4 linked regions of the Homo sapiens genome follow. The protein of the gene in region 4 interacts with the protein of the main gene of each other region in a pairwise test. Each region holds a gene or a part of one and is shown on either strand. Other genes may lie near its edges. The genes, in order: DHX57, SLBP, GPATCH2L and ZNF473.

Region 1 (7,026 bases), on a different chromosome or scaffold from region 4:
AGCACACCCAGTCAATGCTATTGAGTATAGATTCATAGACTGTACACTGCACAAAGGTTCCTGGCTGGGAGGGAAGAAGAGGGAGGAAGGGACAGCAAAATCCGGTCCATGTTCTGCTGGCTAAGCCATGATCCTGGTGTGGGGCTATAACTGTCCAAAGGAAGGAGCACCATTTTCTAATTCACATAAAGGCATACACTGAATAGAAACAACTCTGGCCAGACTGACTGATAATATCACACACCCTTGCCTCAAACCCTCCAAAGGCCTTCTGTCTTACTTCATGTAAAAGCCAAAGTCCTAATAATGGCCCATGAAGTCCTATACAGTCTGGTCTTTCTGATCTAATTGCCTACCACTTGCCTTCTTGCCCACTCATTCTAGCCACATGGTTCTTTGCTATTTCCTAAACCTTCCAAGCACATTCTTGCCTTAAGAAATTGCTCTTCCCTCTGCCTTGAATGCTGTACTCAGAACTTCACAGCTTATTCCTTTACTTACTTCTTGCCTCTCTTCACGTGATACCTTATTAGGGGGGCTTTCTACATAAATTAACAATTCTATTTTGGTATTTTATATCCCTGTTACACTCCTTTATTTCTCTCCATAGCATGCGGCACCTGGTAATGTTATACATTTGTTTATGGTTTTTCTATCTCAAATCCCATTCTATCTAGATAAGGACAATATTTTACTCCCTGCTGCAATTCCAAGTCCCTAAAACAGTGCCTGGTGCATGGTAGGCATTCAGTAAATACTTACCAAATGAATGAACATCTACGGACTCCAAGAACCTATAATGTCCATGTTTTGAAAAACTATGGAGCTGCAGCTAACTCAGAAGTTAGGTTCTTGGCTAGGCACAGTGGCTCACGCCTGTAATTCCAACACTATGGGAGGCCAAGGCAGGAGAATCGCTTGAGCCCAGGAGTTCAAGACCAGCCTGGGCAACATAGAGAGACTATGCTGCTTGCTATTTATAAAGTCTATAGTAGTGTACAGTAATATCCCTAGGCCTTCACATTCACTCACCACTTCCTCACTGACTCACCCAGAGCAAAATCCAGTCCTGCAACTTCCATTCACGGTAAGTGCCCTACATAGGTATCATTTTTAATCTCTTATACTCTATTTTTACTATACCTTTTCTACAACTAGACATGTTTAGATACACAAATACTTACCATTGTGTTATAATTGCTTAGAGTATTCAGTACAGCAACATGCTGTATAGATTTGTAGTCTAGGAGCAATTGGCTACATCATACAGCCTAGGTGTGTTGTAGGTTGTACCATCTGGGGTTGTGTAAGTACATTCTATGATGTTTGCACAACAATGAAATTGCCTAACAATGCATTTTTCAGAACACATCTCTGTCACTAAGTGATGCCTAATTGTAGTTATACTGTATAACATGCAATAGCAAAACATTTACTTTTATTAAATACTCATTAGAATTACTAGAATTCCCATAATTTATTCATTAGTTAAAAGTTGAACAGGAGAGAAACCTAGATAAGGCATCTGTTACTGGTCACCACATGTAACACCATCAGATGATGGCTGATTTGGCTGGAAAATACACAGCTCATCAACTAGAAAGACACAGTACAGTCATGTTGCACTTTAGGCTGTTCAATGTTTGTTTTTTGAGATGGAGTCTCACTCTGTCACCCAGGCTGGAGTGCAGTGGTGTGATCTCAGCTCACTGCAACTTCTGCCTCCTGGGTTCAAGCAATTCTCCTGCCTCAGCCTCCCTAGTACCTGGGATTACAGGTGACTGCCACCATGCCTGGCTAATTTTTGTATTTTAGTAGAGACAGGATTTCACCCTATTGGCCAGGCTGGTCTCGAACTCCTGACCTCAAGCGATCCACACACCTGGGCCTCCCAAAGTGATGGGATTACAGGTGTGAGCCACCGTACCTGTCCATGTTCAATGTTAACATCATCATTTTAACATCAGTCTATGATGCATAAGGAATACTTAAAATAATTTTCATCACACTATTTCTGTATTTACTTTCCTAGTAACACTGGGTATAATAGCAGTATTACACTCAATTCACAGTGTCATGCAACCTACATACACACAAAAGCTGTTATTTCCCATCATGTCTTCAGAAAAGGGTTACAAAGAGGAAGACAATTTGACCAGAATTACTCGACTTTTTTTCCATTCTCAGCCATCTGTTGTCCCATACATTAGGGGTTGATACCATTTCCATATTTAAACATTCAAAGAGTTATAATGACCTGGAAGGGCGCCTTGATTCACTGAAGATACAAAAGTCATCTCCATCATCCCATATTCTACTGGAGGCCTTTCTGTTGCCGCCACCTCCACCACCACCACCACCGCCACCGCCACCACTCCCATGAGATTTACTGGCGTGACTCCTGCCTCCTCTTCCTCCTCTAGAAGACCCTTTTCCACCTCCTTTGCCTGGCTTGCCTTTTCTTCTTACTGAAGAACTCATTTTCACCTGCAAGAGAAAAAAATTAATGTAGACATCATAAAACCAGACATGTATGATAATCCTTTGTTTGCCAAACTTATGAATATAGGCTACTTTAAAGAAACAAAGGAAAATGCATATGTAAAAAGAGCTGGTCTTGGGGCAGGATTCTGAATCTGTTCCAGTGAAAAAATTTTAAAACTACAAAATAAAAAGAGCCAGCCAGTTTAGGGATAGTATGGATAAATCTTCACAAAAGATTTATAAGCACTTCTACCTCAGGACTAATATTTAGTGAATGTCTCTGATACAGATTTCTAAACTAAAGATGTACATCATAAACACATGGAGAAGTGTCAAAATACACATGTCTAGGCTTTAATCCTAGATTCTCATTTGGTTAGGTCTAATTTAGAGTTTTATTTATTTATTTATTTATTTATTTAGAGATGGAGTCTTGCTCTGTCGCCCAGGCCGGATGATCTCAGCTCACTGCAACCTCTGCCTCCTGGGTTCAAGCAATTCTCCTACCTCAGCCTCTGGAGTAGCTGGGACTACAGGCGCCTGCCACCACGCCCAGCTAATATTTGTATTTTTAGTAGAGATGGGATTTCACCATGTTGGCCAGGCTGGTCTCGAACTCATGACCTCAAGTGATCTGCGCACCTCAGCATCCCAAAGTGCTTGGATTACAGGTGTGAGCCACTGCACCCAGCCTAGCATAGGATTTTAAAAATCCAGTTGAGAAGTTTTCATGTATTTAATATATGTTTTGACAAAATTTAAATTTATATATGCTCTATCAGGAACACAGCTTGGGCTCAGAGATTCTGCCAAGGGCAAAAGGGAAGTAGGCCGTAAGACAGATAGCTCCTAATCTTTTTCCAAAGGACTGACTCCATTTACAATGGAGTGTGGAGAAGTTCAAACCTAAAGGTGCTTTCAAGAATAGTGAGGTTGTGGGGAAAGGGAGATTACAGGATTAAATGAAGATGTAGTTTAGACTGTTGGCCAACTAGTTTGCAGGAAGCAAACCAAGGAATAAGATCACTAGGAAGTTCCTTTTTGGGATTAGAATGAGTATTAAACTGGGATCTCAGAAACTATTGCTTCAAAGAAGCCATACTTTGGTTGGATTAGTTTGTAAAGGAATTTACTCTCCAGAGCATTGTTGAAAACAATTCAGCAATCAACCATGGGCATACCTAAAGCTGTACCTCCCAGAGGAGCAACAACAGAGGCTTAAAATCGTAGGAGGGAAATAGACTTCACTAAAATATTCTAGCCAGTCACTAAAAATTAAACCAGCAAATAACAATAAGAAGCCCCTGAAAGGGGAGAATCAGTACCCAGAGTTGTTACAGTATGTTATCCAAAATGTTCAGTTAACAACAAAAAAGTCACAAGGCATGCAAAGAAACACTTAAGTATAACCCATACACTGGAGAGAAAAAGCACAAACTGCCTATGAGTGAGAACAGATGTCAGATTTAACAGAAAAGGAGTTCAAAATAGTCATTATAAGTATGTTCACAGAAATAAAGGAATGCACAATTAAAGCAGTAAAGGAAGGTATGATGACAATGTCATATCAAATTGAGAACATCAATAAAGAGATAAAAAATTATATATATAAAAAGAACCAAATGGGAATTCTGGAGTTGAAAAGTATACTAATTGAAATTAAAAATTCACTAGAGAAGCTCAACCATAAACATGAACTAGCAAGAGAAAGAACTGATGAACTTGAAGACAGACTGACATTGATTATGCAAGCTGAAAACAGAGAGAACGATAAATGAAGAAAAGTGAACAGAGCCTTGGAAAAATGTGGGACACCATCAAGGGTACCATATACATATAATGAGAATACCAGAAGGAAAGGAAAGAAAGAAAAGAGCAGAAAAAATATTCAAAGAAATAATGGTAGAAAACTTCTCTGATTCATTAAAAATCAATAACCTCTACATGCAGGAAGCTCAATGGCCTCCAACTATTAGAAAATAAACACAGAGATGCACAAAATAGACATGTTGCAATAAAAATGTTGAAGGTCAAAAGACAAAGAGAAAATCATGAAAGGAGTAAGAGAAAAACAACTTATCACTTACAGGGGGGAACCCCAATAAAATTAATGACTGATTTCTTCACAGAAACAATGGAGGGCAGAAGGTAATGACATATATATTTAAAATACTCAAAGAAAAAAATAGGGCTGGGCGTGGTGGCTCATGCCTGTAATTCCAGCACTATGGGAGGCCAAGGCGGGCAGATCACGAGGTCAGGAGATCGAGACCATCTTGGCTAACACAGTGAAACCCTGTCTCTACTAAAAATACAAAAAATTAGCTGGGTGTGGTGGCACACACCTGTAGTCCCAGCTGCTTCGGAGGCTGAGGCAGGAGAATCACTTGAACATGGGAGACAGAAGATGCAGTGAGCCGAGATTGCGCCACTGCACTCCAGCCTGGGTGACAGAGTGAGACTCCATCTCAAAAAAACAAAAAACAAAAAACAAAAAAAAAACAACAAAAAATAGTTAACCAAAAATCCAGAAAAGCTATCTTTCAAAAATGAAGGTAAAATGAAAACTTTCTCAGACAAACAAAACTGAGAGAATTTGTTGTCAATAGACCCGCCTCACAAGAAATACTAACAGTTCTTCAAGTTGAGGCAAGTATCCCTGGATGGTAATTTAAATCTACATGAAAAAACAAAGAGTACTAGTAAAGGTAATTGAGTAATTATTTTTAAAAATCCACATTTATATTGGACATTTATTTATTTGAAAACCAGTACAAAAGTATTGTCTCTTCTTTTCTCTGAAATGATTTAAAAAGCAGTTATATAAAATAATATGTATATGATATAATGTTGGGCATGTCACCTACAAGAAGGTAATATGTATGTAATATATTTGCCAATAACAGCACAAAGAAGATTGGTGGGAGCGTAATTGTGCTGTGCTGAGAAAATGACTACAGACAGTAAAGTAATACTTGTAACAAGTATAGTTGGGTATATAACATTAATAGATATAATATGTATAACAATACTATAAAAAGGAGGAAAGGAATAGAGCTATATAAAAGTAATACTTCTATGTATCTGTCTTAGTCTGTTTTCTGCTATAACAGAATGCCACAGACTAGGTAATTTATAAACAACAGAAGTTTATTTGTCTCATGGTAATGGAGGCTGGGAAGTCCAAGAGCATGATGCTGGCATCTGCGTAGTGTCATCTCATGGTGGAAGATGGAAGGCAGAAGTGGGCACGATACAGAGAGAGGTACCAGCTGCCAGACTTATTTTATAATAACTCATTCTTTTTTTTTTTTTTTTGAGACAGTCTCACTCTGTTGCCCCAGCTGGAGTGCAGTAGCGTGGTCTCAGCTTACTGCAAGGTCTGCCTCCCTGGTTCATGCCATTCTTCCACCTCAGCCTCTGGAGTAGCCGGGACTACAGGTGACCGCCGCCGGCTAAGTTTTTGTTTTTTTGTATTTTTAGTAGAGACAGGGTTTCACCATGTTAGCCAGGATGGTCTCGATCTCTTGACCTTGTGATCCGCCTGCCTCGGCCTCCCAAAGTGCTGGGATTACAGGCGTGAGCCACCGCGCCCGGCCTAATAACTCATTCTTGCTATAACTAACCCACTCCCATGCTAGTGACATTAAACCATTAATAAGGGCTCTGCCCTCATGATCGAATTACCTGTTATTAGGCCCCATCTCCTAACACTGTTGCATTGGAAATTAAATGTCTAATACATGAACTTTGGGGGTAAACATTCAAACCATAGCAATATTGCTGGAATTAAGCTAATATAAATCTGAAGTTGTTCATAAACCCCAAAGCAATCACAAAAATACTACATTAGAAAATATTCACTTAATGACTAAATGCAAATGAAAGCATAAAGTAAGAACAGAAGAAAAAATAGACATTGAGAAATACAGACATCCAAAAGTAGAATAGAGTTAGATGTAATTCTCAGTATATAGACAATAAAAATAAATGTGAGAGAATAAAGCAGTCCAATCAAAAGACAGAGATTGTCAGACTTGATTAACAAACAGGATCCAAATATATTCTGTCTGCAGGAGAGGCACTTTAAATTCAAAGACACAATAAATGAAAAGTAAAAGGATGGAAAAAGATGATCTTGCAAACAGCAACTACAAGAAAGGTGGAGTGGCTATGTTAATAGCTTACAAAACAGACTTTAAAGCAAAAAATATTACTAGAGATAGGGATATTTCTTAATGATAAAAGGGTTAATCTGCCAGGAAATGATAACAATTAAAAACACATATGTACCTAATAATAAGGCACCAAAATACACAAAGCAACAACTGACAGAAATGAAGGGAGAATTAGACAATTCAATAATAATAGTAGGAGACTACAGTACCTCACTTTTAATGGTAGAACAACTAGACAGAGGATCAACAAGGAAATAAAAGACTTGAACAACACTCTAACCAACTAGACCTAATAGGTGTCTATAGAACACTCCACCCAACAACGAACTATACATACTTCTGAAGTACACATGAAACATTTTCC
Region 2 (7,026 bases), on a different chromosome or scaffold from region 4:
GGCATACATCCACCCACACATTTTGATACCAGAAGAAATGACAAATAACTCCCCCAAATGTTCAATAACCAATTCCCACATATTCCCGTCCCTTTTCAAAGGAGGCTGATATAAATACCATCACTGGCTGCCAAAATGAAAACAGGTAGTCTAGGTATCGTTCCGCGGCTGACACGCAAGACACATTTTTCTTGAGACCCTGTTTATCAGCCACTTGTTGGCTAAAATTATCTTGTAAAATACTTCAACCAATTATGAGCCACATTTTAACTGGGTTTGAATAAACCCAGTCCTTGCAACTGGGTTTGAGTTAGACAACTCATCAAAAGAGAAAGGATCAACACACTGATAATCAAGGGAGATTAAACATGGTTAAGGATGCATTAGGTAATGAGTCAACGAAGACGAAGTAGCTTAGTTTGCAAGAACTTGGATACACACAACAATCTTGTGTGCAACTGCAAGAGGTTCACAGAATCCAAGTTTGAGACCTTTCCTTGTATGTTGGCATTTCTGAGCTGTTTGTTGCCTAAGCCAAGTGTCAATGTATTCCTTCATCTGGAGAGAGCACTCCATCTACTGTGCTGGGTTGTGTGAGCACCGCACACAGAAGGTCGGTGGTAACAAATGACTATAGTAAGTTCCTGATAGTTAGGCCGGGCACAGTGACTCATGCCTGTAATCCCAGCACTTTGGGAGGCCGAGGTGGGCGGATCAGGAGTTCAAGACCAGCCTGACAAACATAGTGAAACCCCATCTCTACAAAAAATACAAAAATTAGCCAGGCGTGGTGGCCTGTGCCTGTAATCTCAGCTACTCAGGAGGCTGAGGCAAGAGAATCGCTTGAACCCGGGAGGCAGAGGTTGCAGTGAGCCGAGATCTTGTCACTGTACTCCAGCCCGGGCAACAGAGCGAGACTGTCTCAAAAAAAAAAAAAAAAAAAGAAAGTTAGTTCTGATAGTCCTCCAGCCTGCAATCCAGCAGTAACACCATTGTGCACCTACTTCCACTCTTGGAAGGATTACCACCAAGAGGACAGTGGTCTTCAAGCTTGAAAGAGTGGACCCGCCTGGAGGGCTTTTCACAGGATGGCCAGGCCCCACCCCATTCGCAGGCCCAGGGAAGGGTCTGAGAATCTGTATTTCTAACAAGTTCCCAGGAAATGTTGATGCCTTTGGTCTGGAGCCCAGACCTTTGAAAACCACTGTTCTAAGACAAATATCAAATTTAATGTGTTACTGAAAACGCCACAGATTAACACTTCAAGGTGGTCCAAAATGTGTACCTTGCCATTTCTTTGTTAACTCTGGTCCTCATTTCATCTTCTTCAACTGCACTTGCCCAGTCAGAGCATCTGGAACGGGGTTTAGGGCCTTCAGGAGTGGTAAAGCTGCAATAAAAGGAAAATGCTACTGAACCATGACACATACTTTGTTTTCTTTCAAACTGTATGTCAAGAAATATTCAAAGGCTGGTGGGACACAGTGGCTTGTGCCTGTAATACCAGCACTTTGGAAACTGAGGTAGGAGGATCACTTGAACCCAGGAGTTCAAGACCAGCATGGGCAAGATAGTGAGACCTCATCTCTGTCCCCCACCCAAAAAAATAAAAGCATTATATCAGTGAACTATGTGTATCAAACCATACTAAACTGGAGTTTAGCAGGACAAAAGCAAACTAGATGTAGAACATAACCTATCAGCTGCATCTGTCTATCCAGGGCTGTCTTACTAGAGCAGAAGTCATGGAGCTCCTTGGCAGTGTGCCCACTGTGTTTGGGGGTCTAATAAAACCAACTAGATTTTAGACTTCAAACTAAATTATGATTCCTTTTGGGTGTCCACACTTCAGTAGTCCAGGGCTATCATATGGCTGAAATCAACTTATTTCGTTCATCTCTGGTATGTGTTTATAAAGTCATTAAGATGGGAGATTTGCTTCAAATTTTTGCAGTGTGTGTGGCAGTCAGAAAAACCCATATCTAGTTTTCAGCTTCAGTTCTGGCATTTCTATGGGTTAACCTTATCTCATTGATCCAACATCCGGCCTGATGCTGGAGCTTATGAAGTTGACTCTAAGAAGTTCAGAGAGTGTAGAGTTTCCCATCTTGTATTTAATTTGTCTCTATGCCATTAGTCCCAGCTTGAAGTCATTACCAATGTCAATGTTGACAGGATTGTGACAATATTGCCTTTCATAAAACCGACCACCAAAGAATTCCATTATTCTAACAAAGCCCGAGTTTCACAGATCGCGGGCACATCTAGACAGATGTGTGCATGCTTGACGGTGCAGAGCAACTACTCACTTCCAGCAACCTCGTGCTTCCCCTGGCTGGCCATACAGAGGGATTCGCTGTCATACTGAGAAGGCTCTGCAAGGTAAGTCTCTAATTGAGGCTATCTCAGGTGGGTGTTTCCGCTGTGTAGTCCCAAGCCTGTATCCATATAATAAAAGTGCAGGTCTGGCATTCCTCCAGGTTATCTGGCCAGTGTAGACTCCTCCATCTGAATATGAACCTCCAGGGTAAGAATTTTCCAGACATGTCTATACTAAACAGTATGATCCTGTACTTGCCAAATGTCTGCCTCCTCCTGTTCTGCACTGACCCATTCTTTTTTTTTTTTCTTTTTGAGACGGAGTCTCACTCTTGTTGCCAAGACTGCAGTGCAATGGCATGATCTCAGCTCACTGCAACCTCTGCCTCCCAGGTTCAAGCGATTCTCCTGCCTCAGCCTCCCGAGTAGCTGAAATTACAGGCATGAGCCACCACGTCCAGCTAATTTTGTATTTTTAATACAGGCTGAGTTTCTCCATGTTGGCCAGGCTGGTCTCGAACTCCTGACCTCAGGTGATCCACCTGCCTCGGCCTCCCAAAGTACTGGGATTATAGCTGTGAGCCACCGTACCCAGACTGCACTGACCCATCCTAATTCCTGTTAAGTGTGAGAAGAATTGTCTTCTGTTCTCTCTCCATTCTCATTCATGATGAGATTACTGATCCATTAACCAGTTGAGAAATGACTGATGCTGAAGAAATGGTATTCTATTGGCAAGGCTTATTAACAAACTTCTGATAATGAAGCAGGCTACCAAAAACTTATCCAGCCCACCCCAGGAGTGTTTGGATTTGATCATGGATGTAGCACACACCAAAATCACTAAGACTTTAGACTACTTGTTTTATTTTGTCAGATTATCATGGGACTGTCTTTAGTTCTGAATTATCTGTAAGTCTGAGTACTTCATAGAATTATAAAGCAGGTACAGCTGACACCTTCTCACCATGTTGTAAATATTTACTGAGACTGGGTACAGTACTGAGGGATGATAATCTTCTGATTTATCCAATGCTGACTGTCTACAGCAAATTGTCCACTCTGCAAATGGTCCTGTAACGTGTATGAATGTATTTCTGGGTGCCTTAGAAGTTGTCTTTTTCATGTGTGCTAATATGCAGTATTTATACATTGTGAGAAGTTGATTTTAATAAAAAGGTTGGAACGTCATCTCCAAAATAAATAAATACCCAAGCATGGTGGGGCGTGCCTGTAGTCCCAGCTACACAGGAGGCCCAGGCAGGAGGATCACTCTAGCCCAGGAGGTCAAGGCTGTGTGAGCCATGATCCTGGCACTGCACTCCAGTCTGGGCAACAGGGCAAGACCATATCTCAAAAAAATATATATGGTGGCAGAGGACAGTGGCTCATACTTGTAATCCCAGCACTTTGGGGACGCCGAGGCGGGTGGATGACCCAAGGTAAGGAGTTTGAGACCAGCCTGGCTAACATGGCGAAACCCCATCTCTAATAAAAATACAAAAATTAGCCAGGTGCAGTGGTGCGCACCAGTAGGCCCCAGCTACTAGGGAGGCTGAGGCAGGAGAACTGCTTGAACCCCAGAGACGGAGGTTGCAGTGAGCCGAAATTGCACCACTGCTCCTCCAGCCTCAGCAAGAGACTCCGTCTCAGAAAATAAATAAAATACAGAATAGCTAGCATATCCATTTACCTTTCGGGCGCATGTAATTAATAATTCAGAATGTTATGTACACTATGATTACAATGTGTATGGAGGAGTATATGTCAGAGTCCTTGCTGTGTCAGGACTCCGTCTACTGGCAAAGTACCCCCTGTGCTTGAGTTAAACCACATCCAGGAGCTCAGTTCCATCTCAAGTTCAAGATAGTCTTCAGTCAATATTGGGAAATTTATGGCCAGGCAGTGGCTCACTCCTGTAATCCTAGCACCTCGGGAGGCTGAGGCTGGCAGACTGCCTGGGCTCAGGAGTTCCAGACCAGCCAGGGCAACATGGTGAAACCCAGCGTCTACCAAAATACAAAAACTTGGCTAGGCGTGGCAGCGCGTGTCTGTAATCCCAGCTACTAGGGAGGCTGAGGCAGGAGAATCCCTTGGACCCAGGAGGTGGAAGTTGCAGTGATCCACCAGGCGGAGTTGCAGTGAGCCGAGATCGTGCACTGCACTCCAGCCTGGGGGAGAGAGACCCCGTCTCAAAAAATAAATGAATAAATAAATAATAGTCCGGGCGTGGTGGCTCACACCTGTAATCCCAGCACTTTGGGAGGCCGAGGTAGGTAGATCACCTGAGGTCAAGAGTTCAAGACCAGGCCGGGCGCAGTGGCTCACGCCTGTAATCCCAGCACTTTGGGAGGCCGAGGCGGGTGGATCATGAGGTCAGGAGATCGAGACCATCCTGGCTAACAAGGTGAAACCCCGTCTCTACTAAAAATACAAAAAATTAGCCGGGCGCGGTGGCGGGCGCCTGTAGTCCCAGCTACTGGGGAGGCTGAGGCAGGAGAATGGCGTGAACCCGGGAAGCGGAGCTTGCAGTGAGCCGAGATTGCGCCACTGCAGTCCGCAGTCCGGCCTGGGCGACAGAGCGAGACTCCGTCTCAAAAAAAAAAAAAAAAAAAAAAAAAAAAAAAAAAAAAAAAAAAAAAAAAAAAAAAAAAAAAAAAAAAAAAAAGAGTTCAAGACCAGCCTGGCTAACATGGTGAAACGCTGTCTCTACTAAAAATACAAAAATCAGCTGGGTGTGGTGGTGGGTGCCTATAATCCCAGCTACTCGGGAGGCTAAGGCAGGAGAATCACTTGAACCTGGGAGGTGGAGGTTGCACTCCAGCCTGGGCAACAGAACGAGATTCCATCTAAAAAAAATAATAATTAAAATTTAAAAAATAATAATCAGGAAATCCAAAAGCTTAAGGCTTCGAGCCCCAAATTCTGGCAGTTCAAATTGATGTATCTTATTTATACATCAGACATAAACTCACATTTTTATTTTTCTACCCCATTTTTCTGTTGATCACTACTGACATTAAAACTAGATACTGGGCCGGGTGCACAGGCTCATGCCTGTGACCCCAGCACTTTAGAAGGCTGAGGCGGGCGGATCACAAGATCGGGAGTTTGAGACCAGCCTGGCCAACATGATGAAACCCTGCCTCTACTAAAAATACAAAAATTAGGATAGGCATAGTGGCTCACACCTGTAATCCCAGCACTTTGGGAGGCTAAAGCAGGCTGATCACTAAGTCAGGAGTTCGAGACTAGCCTGACAAACATGGTGAAATCTAGTCTCTACTAAAAATACAAAAATTAGCCAGGCGTGGTGGTGCGCACCTGTAATCTCAGCTACTCAGGAGGCTGAGGCAGGAGAATTGCTTGAACCCGGGAGGCAGAGGTTGCAGTGAGCTGAGATCGCGCCACTGCACTCCAGCCTGGGCGACAGAGCAAGACTCTATCTCAAAAACGAAAAAAAAAAAAAAAAAATCAGGCGGGCGTGGTGGCGCATGCCTGTAGTCCCAGCTACTTGGAGGCTGAAGCAGGAGAACTGCTTGAACTTGGAAGGCAGAGGTTACAGTGAGGTGAGATCACACCACTGAACTCCAGCCTGGTTGACAGTTATGCCCCGTCACAAAAAAATACACTAGATACTAACTTTAATTACAACAAATAAGCAACCTATTTTAGCTGTAAACCAAATGCTGTGCTTTGAAAATGCAATTGCAGTAACAAATGAATAATCCTCTTATGTAATTATCATTTCTTCCCTTACAGTCACACAACTCAGATAAACTTAAATTGGATTTCTAAAAGTAAATTTCCAGATTCTAAAAATGGTAGAAAGTTATGAAATCAAATTAGGTAATTAACTGAAAATTAAATTGACTCAATAGAGGTTTGTCCAGGATTGGATACAAGCATCCTCACTAGTGTATCAAGAGGTTCAAGTCTGGGTCTGCCAACATAACAAATTCCTGAACTACAAGAATAATTTAAAGCCTGTGTATGTGAATGACCATATACTACATGCCATATTTTGGTATCTTTAAGTCCATTTCTTAGATTAAGTAGGTTATATTCATAATCTACCCTATCTTGGGACAACAAAGCCTAATTTTACACACTAAGCTAACAACCTTCCAAAGAGTACTTCTAGATCTTATCCATCAACGAGCTGGCTCTATTTGTCAGGTGCCTCCAGGCATTATCCACAATGTGCAAATACCAAGTGCAAAGGCCCTAGGACAGAAGCATTCCTATAGTTTGAGGAATGAGGACACCAAAAACTTCCATAACTTCTAAAGCACTGTAAGGATTTAATATTTTTATCTTCAGCTAAATGAGACCACTGGAGAGTTCAGAGCTTGATCTCAATAAGGTTTGTTTACCTTCCCTTCATATCTGGACCTAGGGCCTCTTCTGTACCCACCCGTAGACCCAAGTCTTTTGTCTTTTTTTTTTTTTTGAGACAGTTTCACTCTTATTGCCCAGGCTGGAAGGCAATGGCGTGATCTCGGCTCACCGCAACCTCCACCTCCTGGGTTCAAGGGATTCTCCTGCCTCAACCTCCCGAGTAGCTGGGATTACAGGCATGCGCCACCATGCCCGACTAATTTTGTATTTTTAGTAGAGATGGGGTGTTGGGAAAAAGGCTTATCGAGTGCCTGTATAAGCTGGCCATAAAAATATGGCACAGTAAGTTGTGAAAAGCCACAAGAG
Region 3 (7,026 bases), on a different chromosome or scaffold from region 4:
CCAAGTAGCTAGGATTACAGGCCTGTGCTACCACGCCTGGCTAATTTTCATATTTTTAGTAGAAACAAGGTTTCACCACATTGGTCAGGCTGGTCTCAAACTCCTGATCTTAGGTGATCCACCCGCCTAGGCCTCCCAAAGTGCTAGGATTACAGGCATGAGCCACCGCACCCGTCCTAGAGCTAGTAAGTTTTAGGGCAATTTTTTCTGCAGCAACAGATAATACAGAATCTTTATAAACTCTTTGTTGAAATTAATTCCCTTCTTCCTAAACAGTAGCTTCTAGTTTCAACAAAATAAACCCCTCTGAATTCCCAAAATTGCCAGGGGGAGCAGGGGGTGGGAAAAAAGCACAGCACACCCTCTGATCTGAGAGCTTGCTAATTCTTTCATACTCCTAACCACAGAAGACTGTAAAGTGAGAACTGAAAGAGTAACTTATACCTGTTCCAATTATAATAAGGAGGTACAGAATTACTTTATCACCTACAATCAAAAGTTGGTATTAATAAATTACCATCTGGGTTTGTTTCTCCCCATTTAAGAGCTTATTAACCAAGTAGCTTAATAAGAGGTGTTTTTTGCATCTAATTAATAGATATCTTAAAGTTTATGGCTTACATCGTCATTCTAAAAAACTTTTCTTAGTAAATAATAATGCACTTAACAAAAATAAAAGTTGTTTCAGAATTTAGAAAAACGTGGAAAAAAGTCACTCTTAGATCTACTGCCCAAAGGTATTTTTGTTCTATCGTTTTCCAGTTTTTTTCCAGGGTAGAGGTGGCACACTGGTAACCCTTTGTAATCAGACTTCTGAATCTAGTAGTAAACAAGACTGAGGGAGAGGTTATTCAGAGAAATATCTCACATCAGTTCTGAAATTATTCCTATAAGTAATGAGAATATATAATAAAAGAATTTCTTTTTCAGTTTCATTCAGACAGTGCCATGAAAGGCAGCAACCTCCGCAGGTTGACAGGTTCGATACTGTGACTAGTACAATCAGGTATACTTTGCAGAGACAGAATTTTCCTCAGGACTCTGCTATTGAGCTGGGGGCTGTGCCTCAGAGAAGTCCACCCATCCTTTCAAGACTTCCCTTTTCTTAGAGCTAACAGTGATTCATCTTCAGGTAGATGGAACGTCTTCTCACAGTAAATTTTTAAAGAACATGGATTCTGGGGCCTGCATATCTAAGAATGTCTGAGCCACTGCACCCAGTCTTCAACCCCTTTTAAGATTTTTCTTTCCTTAGTCTTGAGCATATGTGAAAAAAAGAAAAACTAAAATAAAATATTTTTTTAAAATCTCCGTCTCAGTAGAAGTCTCTTCTCATTAATTTTCGCTTTTAATCTTAAGACTTAATTTTTCAACTCAAGAACACTTTTTTCTCTTCAGTTGTATCTTCTTCTCCAGCACTTTGGTTTCTTCCCTGGGAATATTTACATACTCACAGACTTGGTCTCTTTGTTTAGAGCTACTAAGTTTTAGGGCGATTTTTTTCTGTAGCAATAGAGAATACAGATGGCCTATTGCCAAGATTTCCTCAAACTACAAGGCTGATAGAACCACACTTGACAATGAAATGGAGGCCCACGTTAGAAGTGCTGAGCCTGCCCTGAAGGTAGATAGCAAGCCCCTGCATCCTTTCTCTACAGTCACCTTGCAGTTCAGAAATGCAAGGCCAGTTTCAGTCAGAAAATCAGGCAGCTACAGGTTGAGGCAGGGTGTGGTTCTATCCTTCTCTTCCCATTGAGCATCATTCAGTTTCTTTTTTCTTTTTTTTTGAGACAGAGTCTCGCTCTGTCGCCCAGGCTCGAGTGCACTCAAGTGCAGTGGTGTGATCTCGGCTCACTGCAAGCTCCGCCTCCCGGGTTCACACCATTCTCCCGCCTCAGCCTCCTGAGTAGCTGGGACTACAGGCGTCCACCACCACGCCAAGGCTAATTTTTTTGTATTTTTAGTAGAGTCGGGGTTTCACCATGTTAGCCAGGATGGTCTCGATCTCCTAACCTTGTGATCCACCTGCCTCGGCCTCCCAAAGTGCCGGGATTACAGGCGTGAGCCACCACGCCCGGCCTGAGTATCTTTCAGTTTCTATTTGGTGGCTCTAACTCCCAGAATACACTTGGATAGGGAAGCTTAGTGTTTTCTGTGTGTATTTGTGTTTGAGGGTAGGAAGCAGTTATAGGGTATTGAGTCCTAGAAAGTATAGTCTTCAAGAACAAAGATTCCAGTTGACATGGGCAGAGAAGTGCATTCTGGAGACAGTACATTCTGGAGACTGCAGTGTTTTCTACACCTTCATTTACGGCACACTCCTGGAATGGGGTCAGAATCAAGCAGTGAGGGTTAGATGATCCTATCTCAGTCCAGCATAGCTGTATGAGATAAAAGCCTCCCAGTAGCACTGGGAGCACTGGGCTAGGGGCTCTGCATATTCTCTTGGCCAGCTGTAGATCTGAGAATGGCAGTTACCTATGTCCACGGGAGTAGAGAAGGGGACCAAGGGTAATCTATGCACCCTTGCTGGCAAATACCAAGAGGCCTTTGAACAAATTCTGCGAAATAAGAGAAAAGGGAATATCATTCTAAAAGTTGAGAGAAAGAATGAATCTTTGAAGATGACTGCCAGTGGGAACCACAAGAATTCAAGTGGGCAGTTGAGGCTACTTACCAGTTAAGACATTACAATGGTGGGAAGTAGACTGTGACTGAAAAGAATCGCAGCATCTCAGTGTTACAAGGGATCTCAGAAGCCTTCAGTTCAACCTTCTCAACTCCACAGCAACTAAGTAAGCGGTCATCAAGCCCATGTTTGAATCCCCCCACCTGATCTAGAAGTTATTACGCATTACATGGTGAAACAATTCACTTCATTTTTACAGAGTCCTAATTTTTAGAATCTTATTTTTTAACCGCAGCAACATTTAACACTCTGTACTCTCTATCCCTGAGTTCTGTCCTGTGGAGCCACACAGAACAATCCCAATATTTCTTTTAAGAGGTAGACTCTTTTACGAGATGGATGTTTCTTTCAAGAGATAGACCTTCAAGTACAATAGTATCATATCGACCTCCCAAGCTGTGTGTTTTAGTTGTCCCTAAGGATACTAGCAGAACTGTGAATATACCCACATAAGCACACTATGCTAGCTATTCGAGAATCTCACATGCAATACTACCAACTGCAACAATGGTAAATATATTCTTGGTCAGCATCCCTACTTACAGAATAGAAAACAGAACACCCCCACCTACCATACATATTCTTTTACACAGCTCCAGGAAACCCTGATTAATGACCTCCACTTGCAAAGGAGGCTACTTACCTTAACCATGAAATAATGAATGCTATTGATCCAACAAGCTACTGCTATAGAGTGTTATTGATCACCCAATCTTTGGTTAAAATGGTCCTCATTTAGCAATTTCACTGTCACAAACACCTGGAGCAAAGCACACTCATAATTAAAGAGTTTGGGGGAGTTAAAGTGAGAGGTGATGGACAGAGATCTCAGCTTTCTCCCACTTATTCTTGCTTCTGAGCTATTGTTTGTATCAGAAGGGATATTGATTTTCTATAAAAATAAGAAAACAAGAGGCACCAAAGGGCCGCAGAAGGTCAGCCTGGGCTGGAGAAGGAGTGGGTAGGTTTAGCACTCTATCTCTGTCACTTGCCTTCCAAGAGAGGAGAATATTTTCTTTCCTGTGAGATCAGCCTCTAATACATCACCTTAGGAAGGCTCCTGAATGTGACCTCTGGCCATCACCCAACCAATTCACTTATGAAAAAAAAAAGAAGCTAAACTATATTCAAGGGGAACAAACAAATGATGTGTTAGTAAAGAATAGAGCAAAATTAGGCTACAGTCACCTAATAGCTAATAGCTATTAATAGTTGCTATACAGACAATTTAAATAAAGATCAGTAGAAAATAATTTTACAGTAGTTGTTCTGCTTTAGAATACTCACAAACACACATACACAGAAAAATATTAAAATAATAGTTTGATCTCTATGCAAGCAGAAAAAAACTACTATACTATAACCATTTTTAGTTCCTCAAAACTTGTGAGGGATTGGCTGGTGTAATATTAAAGGAAGACCAGAAACAGAAAAGCAAACAAATATTGATGAAGTCTATACTCCATGTTTAGGTCGCAAAGAGTGAGTTTAAGGAAATTAGAAATAAGCTGATTGAGACACACATTTTCAAATCTAAAACATCTAATACATGCTTTAGAAAAAAAAAACGCTACCATTGACTAGGCTAAGCTAAGCTTAACAATCAACTTCATCTTAATAATCTTACAATGTGGATCATTACTCTGACAACCCTCAATACCACTGCTAAAAAGTAAAATTCTACATTTTGATCTGTATGTGAATAAACAGTGGCACATCCAAGTAGATTTATGAAAGGGTAACCAAGAAGATTCTTGAAAGTATTTCTTTTAAAAATGCAGGGAAAAAATAAAGTAGAAAATTATTGACAGAATCAACTCATCAAGACAGTATAATATCCAAATCATATACTATTATCTCCTTACACTCTAATGCCAGCCCTTTTTAAAGGTGTGCCTAACAATTAAGGGAGATTTTAGTTCCACTCTCCTCTTGAAGAGAGGCTGAACACAACATTCAGTCAAAGAGTAAGAATCACCCCCTTTCCCCACAGAATGGATTCAGGGGGAAAAAATACAAAGCACTTCTGTTTGTAACTACAAATGAATCGAGACAAGTCAAGGGGAATTTAGAACTCCTAAATAACTAGAAGATTTTAAAGAACTTTCCTCAATGCCGTGTGTGCCACCACTCCGCCCATTATTCCTTCACAGCTACAACCCTTTAGCATCTACATATTGAAAGAACTCTGAAGTGAGGGGCCAGGATAATAGCCCAAATGGGTGAATGAGTTCTCCTCAATTTGAAAAGAGTAAGAATTTCATAAGAATTCCCATCCACTTAAGTTATCCAGACTCTCAGATAACGAGAATTTACATTATTACATCCTGACTAGAATGTGCAATAGATGTGTCTGGAGTAAGAAGGAACAGAAAAGAGTGAAGCATCTCATGCTAGAAAACAGGCTCTGCATCTGGAGCCATACTTGGGCTGTTAGAGCAGACAGAGTTAACAGTCGCTCTCTCACATACAATTATGTCGTAGTTTAACAAGAAATTAAGGGGAAGAAACATACACAAAGCTACTATCCCAAAAGGCTACTTTTAAAATCACCATTCTCAATACTAAGAAGACTTCTATTTGGTATATATGCTCAATATTAAAACAAACTTGAATGTCTCAATAGAGGGTTTCAATAGTGTGAAAGGCTACAAGTTGACTAAGCATTTCTTGTTTGATTAAAAATAGTCTGATGAGGGAAAAATACCTTTATAATCCAAATATATACATATAAATTCTGCAAATAGACCTTAGAAGGAATGAGGCATTAGAGGAAAATTAGGAAAGTCAAATTATGAGCCTATCTCAATATAGTCTGCAGACTGGCAAATATAAAGTTAATAAGAAAAAGTTTAAAAGCTGGATTAAAAACCACTCAAGAAAGGTACAGGTATACAGACCTAAACAGTTTTTCCTGTTACTGACACAGCCTCACCTCAGTGTTCCTAAGATTAATGTCTTTGTTTTTAAGCTAAACTTCAGAAAGGTCATATGTTCTACAGTTGGGAAAGTTAAATTGAGACAGAACAACTCAAAGGGCAGCACAACATGGTGGTTAAGAATGAGCTTTGGAATCAGGCTTGATTCCCAGTTTTGGCACTGGGTGATCTTAGGCAAATTATCTAAGCTCTTATAACCTCAACTTCCCTTCTGTAAATACAAATAGTGGTATCCACCATATAGTGGAATTGTGAACATTAAATAAGAGTATATGCTAAGTCCATAGTACAGTGCCTGGCCCATAGTTGAGTGCTTAATAAATGCCAACTAATATTAACAATAATAGAATACACTGGTTCTCAACTGGGAGTACTCAATCCACCTAGGGATCACCCCTGGAGGCCTTTGGGTTGATACAATGAAAAGGGGGTGTGAATAATGCAGAGATGCTAAATATTCTGCAATGCACCATAAAGAATTGTCCCATCCAAAACACCAATGGCATCCTCACTATTAAGAAAAAGATAACCACAGATTAATATTAATAACATTAAAGTATCAAGCTGGGGGGTATCAATGTTCCTAGGACTATCTGAGATGTAAAAAATAAAAAGTCACCAAAACTACACTTACATTTTTAAACATGTACCCATTAGAGACAAATTTTTCTGGCTTGATCACATCTGATGTAAGACTAATGGGACTCGGTACTGTTATTTTCAAAGCCCACCATGTGTTCAGACAATTTGAATGTCAGCCATAAAAAAATAAATTCAATATAATCAAACCACAAGTAGCAGAAAACAGAATTATAGCCAAAAAGCATCTAAAGCCATGATTCTTAATGAGGACAGGCAACTTAATGGAACATTTATAAACTCCGTATACCTGGCGCTAGCATATTCTCTCTCACACACACACACCAGCCTCTGCTGAGACCTGAGTTCTAAACAACAATATTTATGTATAAACTGTATGGCATAATAAGCAGCAAATTGTTTTTTAAAATAAAATTATTAGTTTTGCATTTGAGGTACGCGTTTTAAACAGTTTTTAGAAACAACTGTGTTTCTATTACATATAGCCTTCCTGACAGAGGGAAATAGACTCATGAATGGTACCTTAAAAAGCTAAACTACTGATTGATTCAAGGAAGGCTTCAAAGTCAATACTAGAGTGGCTGGTTTGAAAGAAGGTAGAACCCACTAAGACCATGGATGTGCACTTTGGGAAAAATTAACCAGGAAAATCTTTGACTTAGTAAGGGAGATCTCACCATTCTGACATGTTCTCATCAGAGCCCTGTTTTTGTTCATCTGTTTCACACTCCATCCTTTCTTTCCTTCCTGTTTTGCTTAGGAAAGTCCTATTTTCTGCTGATTCACACAATCCGTGGC
Region 4 (7,471 bases):
CAGCCACCATCAGCTGCTGGGTGAGTGGGCAAGTCCTCAGACCACTTAAACCCCAGCCTTCAAGTCTTCCTGCTAAGGCACAGGCACTGGGGAGCAGAAACAGGCCACCTCACTGTGCTCACTCTGAATTCCTGGCCCATAGGATCCATGGGCACAAGAAATGGTGGTTCTACACCAGTGAATTGTGGGACGATTTGTTCTCTAGACATAGTAACCGGGACAGGGAGTCCCTGCTGCACAGAGAGGTCAAGTCACTCACTTAAGACGGTTCTCATTTCATGACAGTTCAGTATGTGCAGACCACTGTGCTAAGTTCTCGGCAGGTATTATCTACAGAACCTTCCCAATCACCCTTTTCAAGGTAAGAATGATTTCCCCTTTGGGGAGATGAGAAGCAGAGGCTCAGAGAGCAAATGACTTGCCCAGGGCCACAAACCTCTTAAGCGGCGAGCCAGACACATGATTTTGTTTAATCTTTCCCTCCACTCTATGAGGTAGGGATGATTATCCCATCTTTGAAACCTACAAAATGATGCTCAAAGGGTGACAATTCTCCTTCCCCCAGACCTGACTCCACTCACCTAGAAAACAGTGGGGACGCAGCTGAAATCCAGAACCCAAAAGCCCATGTTCTTCACCTGGTGCCAATTTATACAACGAAAACGCAAAACCGGACTGGGTTCTTGGGGCAGCAGGTCAGAACATTCTTGTAGATTTAAATCTGGAAGCTGATGTTGGGTGTGGAACCACGGCAAGAGAGTCTTTTAACCATGTGCCACCCCCGGTTCTGACACCGTCACCAGCCTGGTCTAGGCCACCATCTCTCCCTTGTGCTACTGCAGCAGCCTCCTAACTAGACTTTCGGCTTCTACGCTTGTCCCTACAATCTATTTTCAACCCAGTAGCTTGACGGATCCACTTAAAATCTAAGTCAGACCCTGTCTGTGTCCCTGCCCTGGCCCATATGGTGGGTCGGACACGGTGGCTCACGCCTGTGATCCCAGCACTTTGGGAGGCCGAGGTGGGCGGATCACGTGAGGTTAGGAGTTCCAGACCAGCCTGGACAACATGGTGAAACCCCGTCTCTACTAAAAAAGTACAAAAAAAAAAATCAGCCGGGCGTGGTGGTGGGCACCCGTAATCCCAGCTACTTGGGAGGCTGAGGCGCAAGAGTCGCTTGAACCTGGGAGGCAGAGGTTGCAATGAGCCAAGATTGCACCGCTGCACTCCAGCCTGGGCAACAGAGCAAGACTCAGTCTCATAAATAAACAAATAAATAAATAAAATGTAAGTCAGACCCTGTCCCTCCTCTACTCAAAACCGTATGGTGGATTTCATTTTAGACAGAATAAATGCTGAAATTCCTACCATGGCCCAGGAGCCCCCTGTATGATCTGCCACTTCCCTGTTCCCTCTCTGACCTCTCCCACCTCTCCCCTTGCTCACGCTGAGTCAGCCACAACAGCTTCGGTGCTTTTCCCCAATCGTGACAAGAACGTTTCTTCCCCAAGACCTTTGCACCTGCTCTCCCATCTGCCTGGAACGCTGTCCCCCTAAGAGTGCACACAGTTAACTTCCTCATCACATTCTTTAGCTCTCTGTTCAAATGTCACCTTCTCAGAGACCTTCTTGGACACGATTTTACTGTGTTTTTTCTTTTCTTTTTTTTGAGATGGAGTTTGGCTCTTTTCGCCCAGGCTGGAGTGCAATGGCACGATCTCGGCTTACTGCAAACTCTGCCTCCCGAGTTCAAGTGATTCTCCTGCCTCAGCCTCCCATGTAGTTGGGATTACAGATGCGTGTCACCACGCCTGGCTAATTTTATATTTTTAGTAGAGATGGGGTTTCACCATGTTGGCCAGGCTGGTCTTAAACTCCTGACCTCAGGTGATCCCCCTCAGCCTCCCAAAGTCCTGGGATTACAGGCTCGAGCCACCGTGCCTGGCCCTGGACACCATTTTACTAATAGCATGTTTTATCCTCCTTACCTTGCTTTATTTTTCTTCACAGTGCTTGTCACTACCTGACATACTCTGACTTACTAGAATGTAAGCTTCATGATGGCGGGGACTTTTCCCTGCCTTGTTTGCCACAGTGTGCCCAGAGCCTCAAACAGGCCTGGCACAGAGCAAATGCTGGGTCTACGTCTGCTGAGTGAATAAATCATTGTCTCCTTTGCAAAAGAAAATGTGCCAAGAAGGTGGGTGGGGGGGGTCCCCAGCTGTGTCAGTACACATTCATCTCTCAGGCAAATCTAGACATCCAGCCAGAGACTCAAAGCTCAGGGCCGGAATTATCTAGCTGGATGGTCCCTAAAAAAGACGTGCCACTTAGAAGCAGATCAGTACAGGGGTTAAGAGGATAAACTTGGGAAATAATCTGCCTGGGTTTGGATCTTGCTTCTGCCATGTATTGCATGATGGACAGAGTTTTGCTATGTCACCCAGGTTGGAGAGCAGTGGCACGACCTCAGCTCACTTGCAACCTCCGCTTCCTGGGTTCAAGCGATTCTCCCTGCCTCAACCTCCCGAGTAGCTGGGATTACAGGCGCATGCCACCATGCCCGGCTAATTTTTTTATTTTTAGTAGAGATGGGGTTTCACCATGTTGGCCAGGCTGGTCTCGAACTCCTGAACCCAGGTGATCCGCCCACCTCGGTCTCCTAAAGTGCTGGGACTACAGGCGGGAGCCACCGTGCCCAGCCAAATTTTTTGGATTTTAGAACCTATTACATATTACAACACCGGCGAGATCCAGGGGCAACTCTCCATAAGTATATGATTTGCACAACAAAATCTTTAAAAATTCTAAATAGTCACACATCAGTTCAGAGTGGGTATTGCCAGCAAACAAGTTCAAAGCCAGGTGAGGTTGGCCTGCCAAGTAAGTTGCAAAACAGAGAAAAAGACCTTTCAGTTTTCAGAACGTTTTGGATTTTAAAGTTATAGATAAGGGACTGCAGACCTGTAAATATTCTTTAACATTTCTTTTTTAGTGTCTGGCATCCCCAACCACCCTGAGAATGTGAATTAGCTGGGCAGGATTTTTGTTTTAGACACTGCTATAATAACCTGGGCTTGAACAGTGCCTATTAGACTAGCACCGTTCAAACCCAGGTTATAGTAGTGTAATATCGGTTGCACGGAGCCTTCCATATAGTAAACGCTCAATAAAATTGGATGTGCTGAAGTCACCTATGCAATGGCCAGGTCAGGACTTGAAACCCTAAGACTCCAACCCTCAGGCCAGTCTTTATCTTAATTTATTTGACTTATTCAACAAATGTTTAGGGAACAGCTGCTATGCGTCAACTACTGTATAGTGTTCCTCCTAGAAAGTTCAGGAAACAGCACAGCAAAAAGGCTAAAAGTCAGACCCCACCTCAGCGCAGGTGGGGCGATTGCCTAGGCGACGACAGAGCCTCCCTTCGGCCGCACCTCCATAGAAACCACGGGATGACTTAGACGCCAAGTTTCACAGCGGAGGAGCTGTCGAACTTCCCACAAGTTCCGCCCATCTCCGCCTTAGCCATGCCCAACACGGAGCCCAAGGTGGCTTGGGAAGCTCAAGAGGAGGCCAGTGAACCCCGCGACCCGGAGCCGCTCTCATTCCGAACCCCGACAGCAGGGGCCTCCGCCTCCCACAAACGGTCGTGCTGACGTCACGGACGCCCCGGCCGAGCTGCGGCTAGGGGGTCGGGGGACGTCCCCTCGTTCGCCTCGCTTCCCCTCACCTCTGTACTTGGGGACTGGGGTGGGATTCTGGGCTTCTGCAGCCTGACCCTCGGATCCTCCGCAGTTACCCGGACTCACCTTCTCAGTTGCCCAGCGAAAACTTCCGCTGGGCGGAGAGCGCTGCGCGCGCATCCTGAATCTGAGGCGCCCGCGCAGGCGCCGCTGACTTCCTGACGGCCCCTGGGCTTCGCCTGCCTGGGAACTCCGTTTCCCAGATGCCTCCGCGGCAGGCCCGCCCTCTGATTCCAGACGGAATGGGGATTATTCCCTCATTGCTCATCCCCCTCCCCTCCGTTCTAGCCGCTTTGGAACGCCTTCTGGTTCTACTGCGCATGTGTCAGTGTCAGACCAATCGGAATGCACCGTGAGGTACCTCTCCACCAATCAGAGGTCACATTACCTAAACTTCTGCCTCAACTCCGCCCCTTACTTCCGCTTGTTTTCTCAGAAACCCGTCACAACGCGTTTCCATGGCAACCTACCGCTTGCTCTTCGGAAAAGGTTAACACTCCCTGACTTCTAGTAAAGGCAAGAAGCTAATTAGATGATTCTTTAACAAGGTAAAAATCTGGACTACAAACTGATGCCGCCTGGTCCTGATTCTCTTTCTACTCTACTCCCACAGTGCTAAGGCTGAAGAAGCAGGAGGAGATGGGAAGGCGAAAGAAGTCGCCCGCACAGCCCTCTGGGAAATAGAGTCCTGGCGCTGCCGCGGAGGATCCTGGGTGCAGCCGCTCAGAGAAGCTTCTCGCGCACAGGAAGTCGCTGCGAGGAGGCGCGTGTGCGGGGAGTTGAATCTCCCGCTCCCTTGAGGCTGGGGTTGCGTCTGTTGACGCGGCCGACTACAATCCCGAGGTACGGAGACGCTGGGGCTGAGGGACTTGCGGGCTCGGTCCTTCCTGAGAGGTGACGGAATGCAAGTGGGGGCGACTTCGGCAAAGGGTGCGTCGCCTTGGGCGGCGGTTGTCAGGGTGAAGGTGTGAACCGTCTTTCACAGTCTGTTATGAAAACCGCTCAAGGTCTGGGCACGGTAGATCACGCCTGTAATCCCAGCACTTTGGGAAGCCTTGGCGGGGGGGATCACTTACAGCCAGGAGTTCCTCGAACCCCCAGTCTCTACTAAAAATACAAAAATTAGTTGAGCGTGGTGGCGGGGGCCTGTAATCCCAGCTACTCAGGAGGCTGAGGCAGGAGAATCGCTTGAACCCAGGAGCTGGAGGTTGCAGTGAGCCGAGATCGCGCCATTGCACTCCAGCCTGGGTGACAGAGCGAGACTACATCTTAAAAAAAAAAAAAAAAAAAGAAAGGAAGAAAACCACCTTGGGAGGCTGAGGTGGGCGGATCGCTTGAGCCCAGGATTTCGAGGCTAGCCTGGGCCAGATGGTGAAGCCCTGTCTCCACAAAAGAAGAAAAAAATAGAAAAATTAGCCGGGCGTGGTGGTGCGCCCCTGTATTCCTAGCTAATTGGGAGGCCGAGGTGGGAGGATTGCTTGAACCCAGGAGGCAGAGGTTGCAGTGAGCTGAGAAAGAAAAGAAAAGAAAAGAAAACTGCTAAAGGGGTTTCCAGGCCTCCCTGATGGCCCTGAGAGGAGTGGTTCTGTTTTATTTTGGTTTTGGTTGGGGAAGGAGGGGAATGAGTTACCTGAAGTTGGCAAATTTAGGCAGAATCTTGCTGGACGATGGATGGGAGTTCTTCGGGAAGTTGAAGTACTTAACATTTACAGTATTTGAGTGCTTTCTGTGTGCCAGGCGCCCTGCTGGAGTTGCATTTCCTCTTCTGATCCCCGCAGCAGCACTGAGACATAAGTGCAGGTCCCCTTGGCACCAAGGCAATCTCGGGAATCAGAATTTTTCAGATTTTAGAAAGCTAATAGGGTGCATATTTTATAATTAGGCAGCACCCCCCCACACCCCGAGGAATCTGGGCCAGTTTTTGGTCATAAAATGTTTCTGTGGGGCAAGGTGTGAATATTCACACTTATGAGAACATTAAGACCCTACATGGCCTGTGGCAATCCAGGTGAAGTTTTGCGGTCAGTTTATAAATCAAGTTCTGGTTTTTGGAGCATTTAAAGGACCATAGATCTGTTGTATTTGTTCCATTTGGTACATGTGGAAACTAAGGCTTAGAGAAGGTAAATGGTCTGGAAGGAAGGGCAAGACTCTTGGGCCCAAGGTCTCTCAGCCTGATAATTGTTTGGCTTAAGTCACTCTGGGCTGGATGACCTTGGGCTCCACCTCTGGGCCCTCGTTTCTTTCCTCCCAGAGCTGAGAGTATATGAGATGTGGGCAGAATGTGATTTGGTAACTGCAGACAGGGATCTCAAGCTCAGCTGTCTGTGAGGGCCAGGCAGATGACATACAGGAAAGAAGAGAACTGGTCCAGGTGAGGCTGCGGGGCCTTGGGGAGCACTTGCCTCATCTGAAGGGGAGAATTGTGTTTTTTTTTTGATGACAGAGTCTCGCTCTGTCACCCAGGCTGGAGTTCGGTCTCACTGGAACCTCCACCTCCCCGGTTGAAGCGATTCTCCTGCCTCAGCCTCCCAAGCAGCTGGAATTACAGGCGTGCACCACCATGCCTGGCTAATTTCTGTATTTTTGGTAGATACGGGGGTTTCACCATGTTGATCAGGCTGGTCTTGGACTCCAAACTTCAGGTGATCCGCCTGCCTTGGCCTCCCAAAGTGCTGGGATGGCAGGCATGAGCCACTGCACCCAGCCGCTTTTTAAACTTAAATTTAATTTTTTTGGCCGGGTGTGGTGGCTCATGCCTGTAATCCCAGCACTTTGGAAGGCCGAGGTGGGTGGATCACGAGGTCAGGAGATCGAGACCATCCTGGCTAACACGGTGAAACTCCGTCTCTACTAAAAATACAAAAAATTCTCCGGGCGTGGTGGCAGGCGCTTGTAGTCCCAGCTACTCAGGAGGCTGAGGCAGGAGAATGGCATGAGCCCGGGAGGCAGAGCTTGCAGCGAGCTGAGATCGCGCCACTGCACTCCAGCCTGGGCGACAGAACGAGACTCCGTCTCAAAAAAAAAAAAAAAAACAAATTTAATTTTTTTTTGGAGGCAGGATCTTTCTCTGTCATTCAGGCTGGAGTACAGTGACACAATCATAGCTCACTGCAGCCTTGAACTCCTGGGCTCAAGTGATCCTCCTACCTCAGCCTCCCAAGCGATCCTCCTACCTCAGTCTCCCAAGTAGTTGGGACTACAGGCACGTGCCACCACAACTTGCTCATTTTTAATTTTTTTTTTTTAGAAACAAGGTCTTGTTACGTTGCCCAGGCTGGTCTCGAACACCTTTCAGCCTCCCAAAGTGCTGGGATTATAAGCATCCCCCACTTGCCTAGCACTGGTGGGGGAGCTTTAAATGGGCACCAGTGAACTAACTTCGTGGGATGTAGACCCAATGTTGCCAAATCCTAGGATGTTTCAGAAGTTGGAAACATAATTTTTAGGTGAAATTTCCCAATTTTCAAGTTTGAGACTAGTGAGCCATGCTTGAATTTTCTTTCAAAACATTCTGTCTGCCAACAAACATTATGGGCCAAATATCTGTCAACTGAGTTATACTCGTAGGTTGAGGCTTAACCTCTGACATGTAGAAAAACTCATTGTTCAGTAGAATTAGCATTTATTGTAGGTCTACCATATTCCCATATTTGTAGTCTCAAAAATCTGGACAACTCAGAACAACAAATTTTTTTTCATAAATTTAGTGTCCGTGCCTTACC

The links.
Region 1: the proteins of ZNF473 (region 4) and DHX57 interact in binary tests that used the Homo sapiens proteins (3 or more experiments, as listed by UniProt).
Region 2: the proteins of ZNF473 (region 4) and SLBP interact in a two-hybrid assay, tested with the Homo sapiens proteins (one study listed by BioGRID).
Region 3: the proteins of ZNF473 (region 4) and GPATCH2L interact in binary tests that used the Homo sapiens proteins (3 or more experiments, as listed by UniProt).

Annotation. Positions count from the first base shown.
Region 1 is NC_000002.12:38,865,925-38,872,950, forward strand, and holds part of DHX57 (putative ATP-dependent RNA helicase DHX57), read right to left. Parts: intron 2,488-7,026; 5' UTR 2,482-2,487; coding exon 2,258-2,481; intron 1,309-2,257; exon of another isoform or gene 1,185-1,308; intron 1-1,184. UniProt on the Homo sapiens protein: Probable ATP-binding RNA helicase.
Region 2 is NC_000004.12:1,702,311-1,709,336, forward strand, and holds part of SLBP (histone RNA hairpin-binding protein), read right to left. Parts: intron 1,391-7,026; coding exon 1,286-1,390; intron 1-1,285. UniProt on the Homo sapiens protein: RNA-binding protein involved in the histone pre-mRNA processing.
Region 3 is NC_000014.9:76,154,905-76,161,930, reverse strand, and holds part of GPATCH2L (G patch domain-containing protein 2-like), read right to left. Parts: coding exon 6,906-7,026; intron 1-6,905.
Region 4 is NC_000019.10:50,021,534-50,029,004, forward strand, and holds the start of ZNF473 (zinc finger protein 473), read left to right. Parts: upstream 1-4,471; 5' UTR 4,472-4,589; intron 4,590-7,471. UniProt on the Homo sapiens protein: Involved in histone 3'-end pre-mRNA processing by associating with U7 snRNP and interacting with SLBP/pre-mRNA complex. Increases histone 3'-end pre-mRNA processing but has no effect on U7 snRNP levels, when overexpressed.